Linked DNA regions of Homo sapiens: region 1 is linked to region 2. Evidence: fine-mapped expression QTL. Tissue or cell type: whole blood. Region 2 holds a variant in brackets; the other region holds the start of a gene. All regions are shown on one strand. Distances are between the middles of the regions.

Region 1 (4,231 bases), 70 kb before region 2:
TCCTATAAATTTTGAATGTAGTTCAGGTATATTTTTCATGCTTTCAAAAGCTTTCCTTATCAACTCTGTATCAGTTAGCTATTGCTGATGAGCAAGTCATCCTAAAACTTACTGGTTTGAAACAATAGCCGTTTTATTTGCTCATGACTTCGTAATCTGGGCTGGGCAGTTCTTTCGAGGGTCTCACTTGGGGTCACTCCTGTGGCTGGCATCATCTGAGACCAGGACAGGGCTAGATGTTCCAAAATGGCCTCACTCGCCTGTTGATGCTGCATCTGGGATAGTCAGAACAGCTGGAGGCTGGCTGCTTCCCCCTCCATGTGGCCTCTTCAATAGTCCAGACTTTTTAAAGTGGCAGCTGATTTTCAAGAAAAGGCAAAAGCAGGAGCTGCCAGGCCTTTTAAGGCCTAGGCCAGGAGATGGCACAGTGTCCCTTTAGCCACATTCTATTGGTCAAAGTAAGTCACAGAGCCACCTCAGATTTAAGGGAGGGGAACTAGCCCTGCTTTTTGCTGGGAAGAGTGTCATGCACACACTGGGTTGGGAGGACTTTTGGAGGCCATCTTTGCACCCAGGCTACCATGGCTCCCTTGGGTCTCCTTTGTGCTGTTCCTATGTGCAAGTTCTAATCCGTGTAGGATTCATCCCCATTACCTCACTTAACTTTCCAACAAACCTTTAAAGGGAACATTGTCTCCATTGTATGGATGAGAAAACTGAGGCTTAGAGAGGTGAGCTTGTCCACTGCCACTCAGAGCTGAGAGTCAAGCCCAAGTGTGGTGCTACAGCTGTAAAATATCACTTTATACCACGCCCTGACCCAACTCCACCTTCCCCATAATGAGCACAGGGGCAGGATGCCCACCCCAGCATCCAGTAACTAGCAGACTGTTTCTGAGTTAACTCCTATGAGGCATGTAATATGTAAATTAAAGCAAAATGAACAACTCTGTGAATTATTATTTTGTTTTAGTCATCTAATCATCTCTATAACAGGCTTTTATAAACTCATAAAAGGTATTAAGAATGTGATAATTTTTATTTGAATAATTTTGTCTAGCCAAAGATTAAGTTAGTGATGTTATTTTTCTGAATATAGTTTGATAAAAATCATTCACTTTTCTATACTTTTACTGTTTTCATTTATTTTGCCTTGCATTGAATCAAAAGGTTGCAGCTTTTGGAGAGAGAAACACTTTTTCACAGAGAAAGCTGTTTGGAAATATAAACTACTTCCTTCCTCCTTTTTATTGGATGATTAAAGAAAAAAATTAAAAGTTAACTTTACATTTGTTACACAATGGGTAAAAATGTCACAGGCTGACAGTGGAGGGGTTTTTCTCCATGAAATTCAGTTTGAATCAGGAGAGTTGTTTCTGCCCAGTTCCAAGGAGGTAGATGGTGGCACATAACCAATTAGGAATCTCTCTGCCCTTGAGGACTGCCTCCAGTGAACATCTGAGACTTGGCTGCCTTCTCATCACCTCTTCACTAGCCACTTACCTCAGTCTCCAAAAAAGAAAATTTTGACATCTTAATTTTAATGTGGGCATTTGATATGGAGCTTGAGATAAATATAACTCTCTGTAGCATGGAGACAGTTTAATGGGAAATGGTTGGCATTCTTTCTTGGTAAAGGCATGGGAGACAGGAGAGGTGGGGGAGGGAGAGAGAGGGAGGGGGTGAGGAGGAGGGAGAGGGAAAGAGAAAGAGGGAAAGACACACACACACACAGACACACACACACACGCACACACACACACACAAACACACGCGCACGCAAACAGCAGTGAGGAAGAGAAAAGCAGAGATAAGCAAGGCTCCGCAGCAGCCTCCTTTCTAACTTGACCCTCGCCAGACCCTGGCCAGCATGGTTGTCCTGAATCCAATGACTTTGGGAATTTATCTTCAGCTTTTCTTCCTCTCTATCGTGTCTCAGCCGACTTTCATCAACAGCGTTCTTCCAATCTCAGCAGGTAAATGATGGCCACAACTTTCCTCTCTTCCATCTGTCAGGGGACAGGGGGAGGAAGGAAGATTGTTTTGCAATGTGTCCTGATGTTTTTGCCATTCAACTGTTGGTGGAGGGAGGTTGGAAGGAAGACGGCCACCCCAGCAGCTTCCTGTCACCCGAGCTTGTCTCGGAAGCCCCTTCTGTCCTTGTTCCAACCGGCTCCTACCTGGCTGCTCAAAGCAGAGACACTTTGAAAAATGGTTTCTGCCTCCCCTATTCTCCCCATTTGCTGCATGATTTCATCTTGGTCAGGAATTTGGGAGAGCTTAAAAGAGACAGAGGTGTGCAAGTAATAGAGAAGTGAGTCTCAGATGTTTCTATAAATACATCTCTGACCTCTTCGAAGGGGGCTTGCCTCACAGGGGCTGTTGTGGAGTAAACAAACCTCTTTCCAGACCCAGATAGCATCCATGGCCACAATAGTCCCTCGAAGGGAAAATGCAGGTGGCAGGGGCCGGTGGGGTGGGGGGTGAACAGCGGCGGGGCAGTTGCAGCCTCAGGACTAGGTTTTCCCTTTCTCCAGACCTGTCTTCCTGGGTGCGACTTCCCTTCAGCCTCAGACAAGGCAGCTGGAGGTCCTGAGAGAAGTGAGCTTTCCAGGGAGAAGTGGAGGGGGTTCCACAGTGACAGCCAGGTCTGGAGCTGAGTGTGTCTGCCGGGTATGAGGCTGGGAGATTTGGGGAAGGGGCTGTGTCTGCCAGCCTGCAACCTTTTCTGAGGTCAGCAGCCTGTTGCCCTTGTCTTGTCTGACCCAGAGCAGGGGAAGTATTCGGTTACTAGTATGGCCTATTTAAACCTTTCTGAGGAAACTCAAATGTTTCCGGAGGGCTTGAAGGAGGCAGGCAGACCCTCACAGCCCCCCTCAATTCACCTCAGTGACCCCTGACTCTCCCCAGCAAAGTTTTAGTTATGCCTCCAACATGAGTCTCATAAATACTTCAACTGAGACAGAAATTTCACTATCGCTGCCTTTGCTGGAAACACAGGGAGGGCCAGAAATGCCAGGCTCTCAGAGAGGGCACATCTCTGAATCCAGCTCCCAACTGCTGTCCATTGATAAAAACAGCTCATCAGCAAGTTGTGTAGCCAACGTTTGTGGGCCATGAGGGAGTGACTCAGAGACTGGTGTGAGGCTAATTATAAAAGTGTGAGAAACAGAAGGAGGTGGGGGCAGATTTGTGGAGAATTCAGGAGGGTGGGCAGGAAAGGTGAGTGGTGGTGTCACCGTGGGTGTGTGCCCACATGCCCCTGCAAATTCAAGTTAAGAGCATCAAGCTTCTTCTAGGAGTGAGTAGTCATTATTCATTCCCCAGTTCAAGGGAGAAGCTTGAGAGTTAATTTGGCCTAATTTGGTGGTTCTTAATCATGTTTGGGTCATGGATTCCTTTGAGAATCTGCTGAAGGTTAGGACTTAAGGAAACTCAGTTTTCTGGTTCTAGCCCTGCCTCTGATGAGCTCCCTGACTTCTGAGAGACAGTGGCCTTACACTATAAGCACCATGTGGCCAGGGCATGTGTCTCTCTTGTACTTTACTGTTTTCCCAGGGTCAGAACAGTGCCTGGCACATAGTAATCAATAAATATTTGATGAATGAATGAATAAAAGCTTCTCATCTGCAAACTGGGGTTTACCATCATTTTGTATTACTTAATTTAAATAGCACCAAAGTGGTTAAGGAGTTCAGAAAACTAGAGAGAAAAGAACCTCTGGTTTTCTTTTGAACTCTTTGCCTTGGAGAGCACCCTGGCACAACATAGATATCTCTTAGGTAAGCTTTTTGCAGACTGTACCAATCAGGGCAACAGCAGGATAAAGAAGCAACTCAGGTGGTTCAGATGAAAAGATCTGAATGAAGGGATCACTTTGAGAGGTGTGGGCGGGGTTAAGGGAACCAACAAGGAATGCTGAGGCACCTAGAGATTAGCAACTGCAATATGCCTTTACCACCCTGTGCTTGAAAAGGCAAGAGGGGCAAATAGGAAAATGGATCCCAGGCAGATTTGGAGCCTTAGAGAAGGGGCCATTAAGCAAGAGCATTGGTCATGGAAGGCCCTAAAGCAGGGAGAAAGTGAAGGAGAAGTACACCATCTTCTCTCTCCTCCCATCCAAGCACCTTTTGGCAGCGCCTCTCATTGGCCAACCCAACTTGAAGCCAGAGGGCAGAGCCTGGAGGTCAGGGACTGGAACACTGAGGGCAGAGAGCCAAGGGGAGGGTTG
Region 2 (4,189 bases):
CCCACAGCCACCTGCTCCATCCAAGGCCCAGAGGGGAGCTGCGGTCTCTGAGCTCAGCTGCTGCCCTGCATGAGCAGCCCCCAAACCCAGTGGTCACCATGACTACATAGTCTCCTGGGCTGTGGGCCTAGGTGGGAAGCCCAGTGGAGAGTAAAGGTCTCAGGGCATTTCCAAGAATCGACATGTCTACCTAACCTGACTTCCCTGGAACACCCTGCCCATCCCTCAGGCATGCCTGTGACTGCAAGTGAGATCAAATCAGCCTTAATATCTAATTTTGCAAGCTCATGGCCCCTCCAAGAAAATACTCCCTCCAAGGACCCCTCTAGTTATTTCTGAGAGTCCTCAGTGGCTATTTATGTTGTTCAGGACAAGTATTCTAGTGTCCTGGCTCCACACTGGCGCCTGCCAAGCCAACTGAGGGCCACCGCCCCATGAGGTGCTGATTCCATGCCCAGATTGTAACCACTGGGCTCCTTCCAAGGTGCAGAAGGTACATGTCTCCCCAGTCCTTACAGAACCAGAGTTGTACAACGTTCTCAGGAAAATGGGGAGGCCGTTCCTTTTTACCTAGGCCATGCCCTGCTCTTCACTGGGTTCCAGAGTGGATCTACTGGTGCTTCCGATCTCTTCTGTCCTTGAGTCCAGTCCCTTCAGCTTTTGCTCCCATCCCATTTTCTCTTGTAGACTCGGACCTGGGCCCTTGGCAGGGCTGGGGAGCCATGCCTGTCTCTCCATTGCCTTCTCTGTGCTCTCTCTTCCAAGGGGGTCTCCCTAACACTCAGATATTAGCATGTTCAACCAGGCTGGGAGAACTACAGACCTGTAGTCTCCCCCAGTCTCCCCCAGACTCTAAGCCCATTTAGGCTTGGCCAGGACCCCACTCCATGTATGTGTCTGTGTGCAGTGCCCCTCTCCCTGAAGGAAGGAAGACCCCTGACAGGCCTCTGCCAGAGAGTTGGCTCTTCATGGCTCCACAGAGACAAATCAATGTAGACGATCAGATATGGAGTACAGGATCGAGTAGAGCCCAGGGCTCCCCCACGCTCACTGTGGTTACACAGCTATTCCCCAGAAGCCTCAGAGGGACGCCTGTGACTGTGCCTGTAAGGTTTAACGCCCTGTCTCGGATGATCATCCGGGCCTACAGAGGTATAAACTGCACTGTCCAATATGGTAGCCCCCATTCACAGGCTGCTGTTCAAATGTAAAGTCATTATAAGTAAACTTAAAATGCAGTTACTCAGGCCAGGCACTGTGACTCACGCCTGTAATTCCAGAACTTTGGGAGGCCAAGGCGGGCAGGTCACCTGAGGTTCAGAGTTCGGCACCACCCTGGCCAACATGGTGAAATCCCACCTCTACTAAAAATACAAAAATTAGCTGAGCTTGGTGGCACGTGCCTGTAATCCCAGGTACTCAGGAAGCTGAGGCAGGACAATCGCTTGAACCTGGGAGGCAGAGGCTGCAGTGAGCCGAGATCACACCACTGCACTCCAGCCTGGGGGACAGAGCGAAACTCTGTCTCAAAAAAAAAAAAAAAATGCAGTTATTCAGTCACAGTAACTACATTTCAAGAGCTCAATAGCCACATCTGGCCAGTGGCTTCACAGATACAGGACATTTTTGTTGGTAGGCTGCATCGTAGCAAGGGGGATTCCCTCACAGATGCTGTGCTAAGAGCAGGGCAACCACCTCCTTCCACCCAGGCCCCGAGCTAGACCTCAAGGCAAAAATCCCAGAGACATGATTCAACTCCCCCAGGCCTCTCACTCCAAATGAGAATGGGAAAAAGTTCTTGTAGAGCCATTGGCCCTTGGCCGCTGTTTGATAAGGTTTGACCGGAAGTCACCAGCATATAAGAGGTGGCCTTTTAGAACGTGTCTTTGCCTCCCTCAGGTCATATGGAGACCTGCAATGCACCCAGTACTGCTACATCGACTCCACGCCCTGCCGCTACTTCACCTGAGGGCCGTGAGGAGAAGGTGGGCTGCGCCCCACAGAACTGGCAGCAGCTTCTCCACTGTCATCAAACTGGCCATGTCCTGGCCCCGTCTCCACCAACCTTTGTGTGACAAAAACAAGGACAAATTCCTGCTACTAAGACATGCTGTTAACTCAGTCTGACTGGAAGAATTTAGGACCACTGCATCCTGTCTTAATCCAAGGTACTGGAAAACCTTCCACATGCCCAACCTGAGACCTGTTCCCCATCGCTACCATTTGGCCAAACAACCGGCTACAATGCTCTTCCTCTTCTGGAATGTTGCTGACCCAGGCCGTGGACTTGGCTGAGCACTGTTAGACACACACAGACCTGCAGGCTGTTTTAG[A/T]ATGTTTTGATCTCTTTGGGGAATCTGGAGTACAGGCCTCTCCGCCCCTGACCACCGAAACGTGCAGGCATTCTCACTCACACTGGGCAGCCCGCTGTCGGGTCTCTCTAGGCCTATGAACCACAAAGCAGGGAAGTGGGCACGTTCTCTCGGGGTGGCTCACAGCTTTGAACCTGCCAAAGGACCCCTCGACTGGCCACAGCCCAGCCCAGCCTGACGTGGATGTGGCTGCCCAGGAAAAGACTTAACTGTGAAAAAGTACTGAGAACCCACCTGACCCAGGCTTGCCCCAAGCAGAGGCTAGAGAAGAGGCTCCTCTTCTCAGTGTTTCCCAAAGGGGCGGCTCTTGTGGTTTCAAAATCTCTGGCACCATCTTGACCTCTTGGCTCTCTCTGCACTTTGCCCCCTGTCTCAAAAATGTCCCTCATGTCCATTTCCTGTCCAGGAGACTCATGAGGACTGTGTGACCTGCACAAGCCCACACCTGGGCAGGCTGTTGGTGTCTCCTTGGTCCTTAGGCAGATACTCCCCTGAGTCCCCGATCTAGGGCCAGCTGCAGAGGGCTCTCTCTAGGCAGAGCGTTCCTGGCCAGAGCTCTACCTCTTTGCCTCCTGCTGACCCCTGACAGCGTCCCGTGGCATTTCTTTCATGTCTGCATATTGCATAGCCTTGTCCTCCTGTGTGCCTGAGCTCCTCCCTTTTCAATAAGATTATTAGTCGTGCATGTCTGTGAGCTGCCTTTCATCACCATTTTTCCTGAGTAGGGCTTAGTTTTATTCTGGAAAGACATCTCCAAGGTGAGGTCCACCCCCACAGCAGACCTCAAGTAGAAATTGCCCAATTTTTACCAGCTGGAGGGACACCCTTGGGTTTTTGTACGAAGCTATTTAATGAGCCTGTGTCTTGGGGACTCAGCAGGCTGGAGCTTGGGGCCTGGTGGACCATCACCTGGTGTCTGTAGGTGGACCCGGTCTCCCACAGGTGACATCAACCTGAGGGTGGCGTCTTTAGAGACAGGCACATGGGCAGCCCTGTTCCCTTCGCCTCTACTGCGAGGCCTGGGGAGATGTTGTTTTCATGCTGCTTCCACCATCACACTGGGGTTTCTGGATGGGAAATAAAAAAATAAAGGCAGTTCATTTCCCCACTGTGGCTCTCTCTTCCGTTGGTGGTGGGGGTGGGGCCGGTGTCTCAGCATTGCCAGATGGAGGGAGGAGTCTAAATTCAAATCTGCTTCCCAAACTCTGTGGAGGGTTCTACAATGTGGAAGCATTCCAGTTCCCTCAGGCACAAGGGAGGAAACAGATCCAGAGATGTCATGGACTTGCCCAAGGTCAAAAAACCCAGTCTTGCTAGGCCAGCCCTGTCCTCAGCCCTAGTTTTAGGACCTTGTTTAGGATGGAATGGAGGTCTAGTACTACTCCTGGATCTGGCCAAGAGAGGCCCTGTCCTGGGTCCCAAGGCTGGAGGGCCCTACCCTGGCCCTCCTCTGGCCATTACCCTCCCCACAGGGTGAGGTCTCTATGTGGCCAAAGTAACATACCCGCTGGAGCTTGCAAGCCCCACTCCTAGACCATGCTCCAGGTACCTGGGAAACCACAGTTCCCCACCCAAGTGGTCTTGAGCCTGCTTCCTAGACCTGCAGGCCTCTTGCCCATGTCTGTCCTCCTGAGTGTGACCTGAAACACATGCAGGCCTGGGGGTGGCCAGCAAAAAGTTGTTTGTAGGAATTATAGATGGGGCTTGGAATGTGGGCTGGGATTTCCTCATGGACACACATGAAGCCCTTCTTAGTGTGGGATGGGCCAGGGGTAAAAACAGAAGGGGATCTGGCAAGGGGCTGGACCCTCCTCTCC

Evidence for each region. PIP is the estimated chance that this variant, and not a neighbour inherited with it, causes the effect.
Region 1: it holds the start of COLQ, and the variant in region 2 is fine-mapped to the expression of COLQ in whole blood (TOPMed, PIP 0.98).

The regions. Positions count from the first base shown.
Region 1 is chr3:15,519,265-15,523,495 of GRCh38, reverse strand. It overlaps COLQ (collagen like tail subunit of asymmetric acetylcholinesterase), which reads left to right and starts at 1,790. Exons shown (of 17, transcript NM_005677.4): 1 at 1,790-1,976. The coding sequence starts at 1,871.
Region 2 is chr3:15,449,424-15,453,612 of GRCh38, reverse strand. COLQ (collagen like tail subunit of asymmetric acetylcholinesterase) reads left to right here. Exons shown (of 17, transcript NM_005677.4): 17 at 1,900-3,480. The coding sequence ends at 1,969. Among named protein-coding and RNA genes, the nearest start is that of EAF1, 24 kb to the right of the region's middle. The variant A/T (reference allele first, on the strand shown) is at 2,334.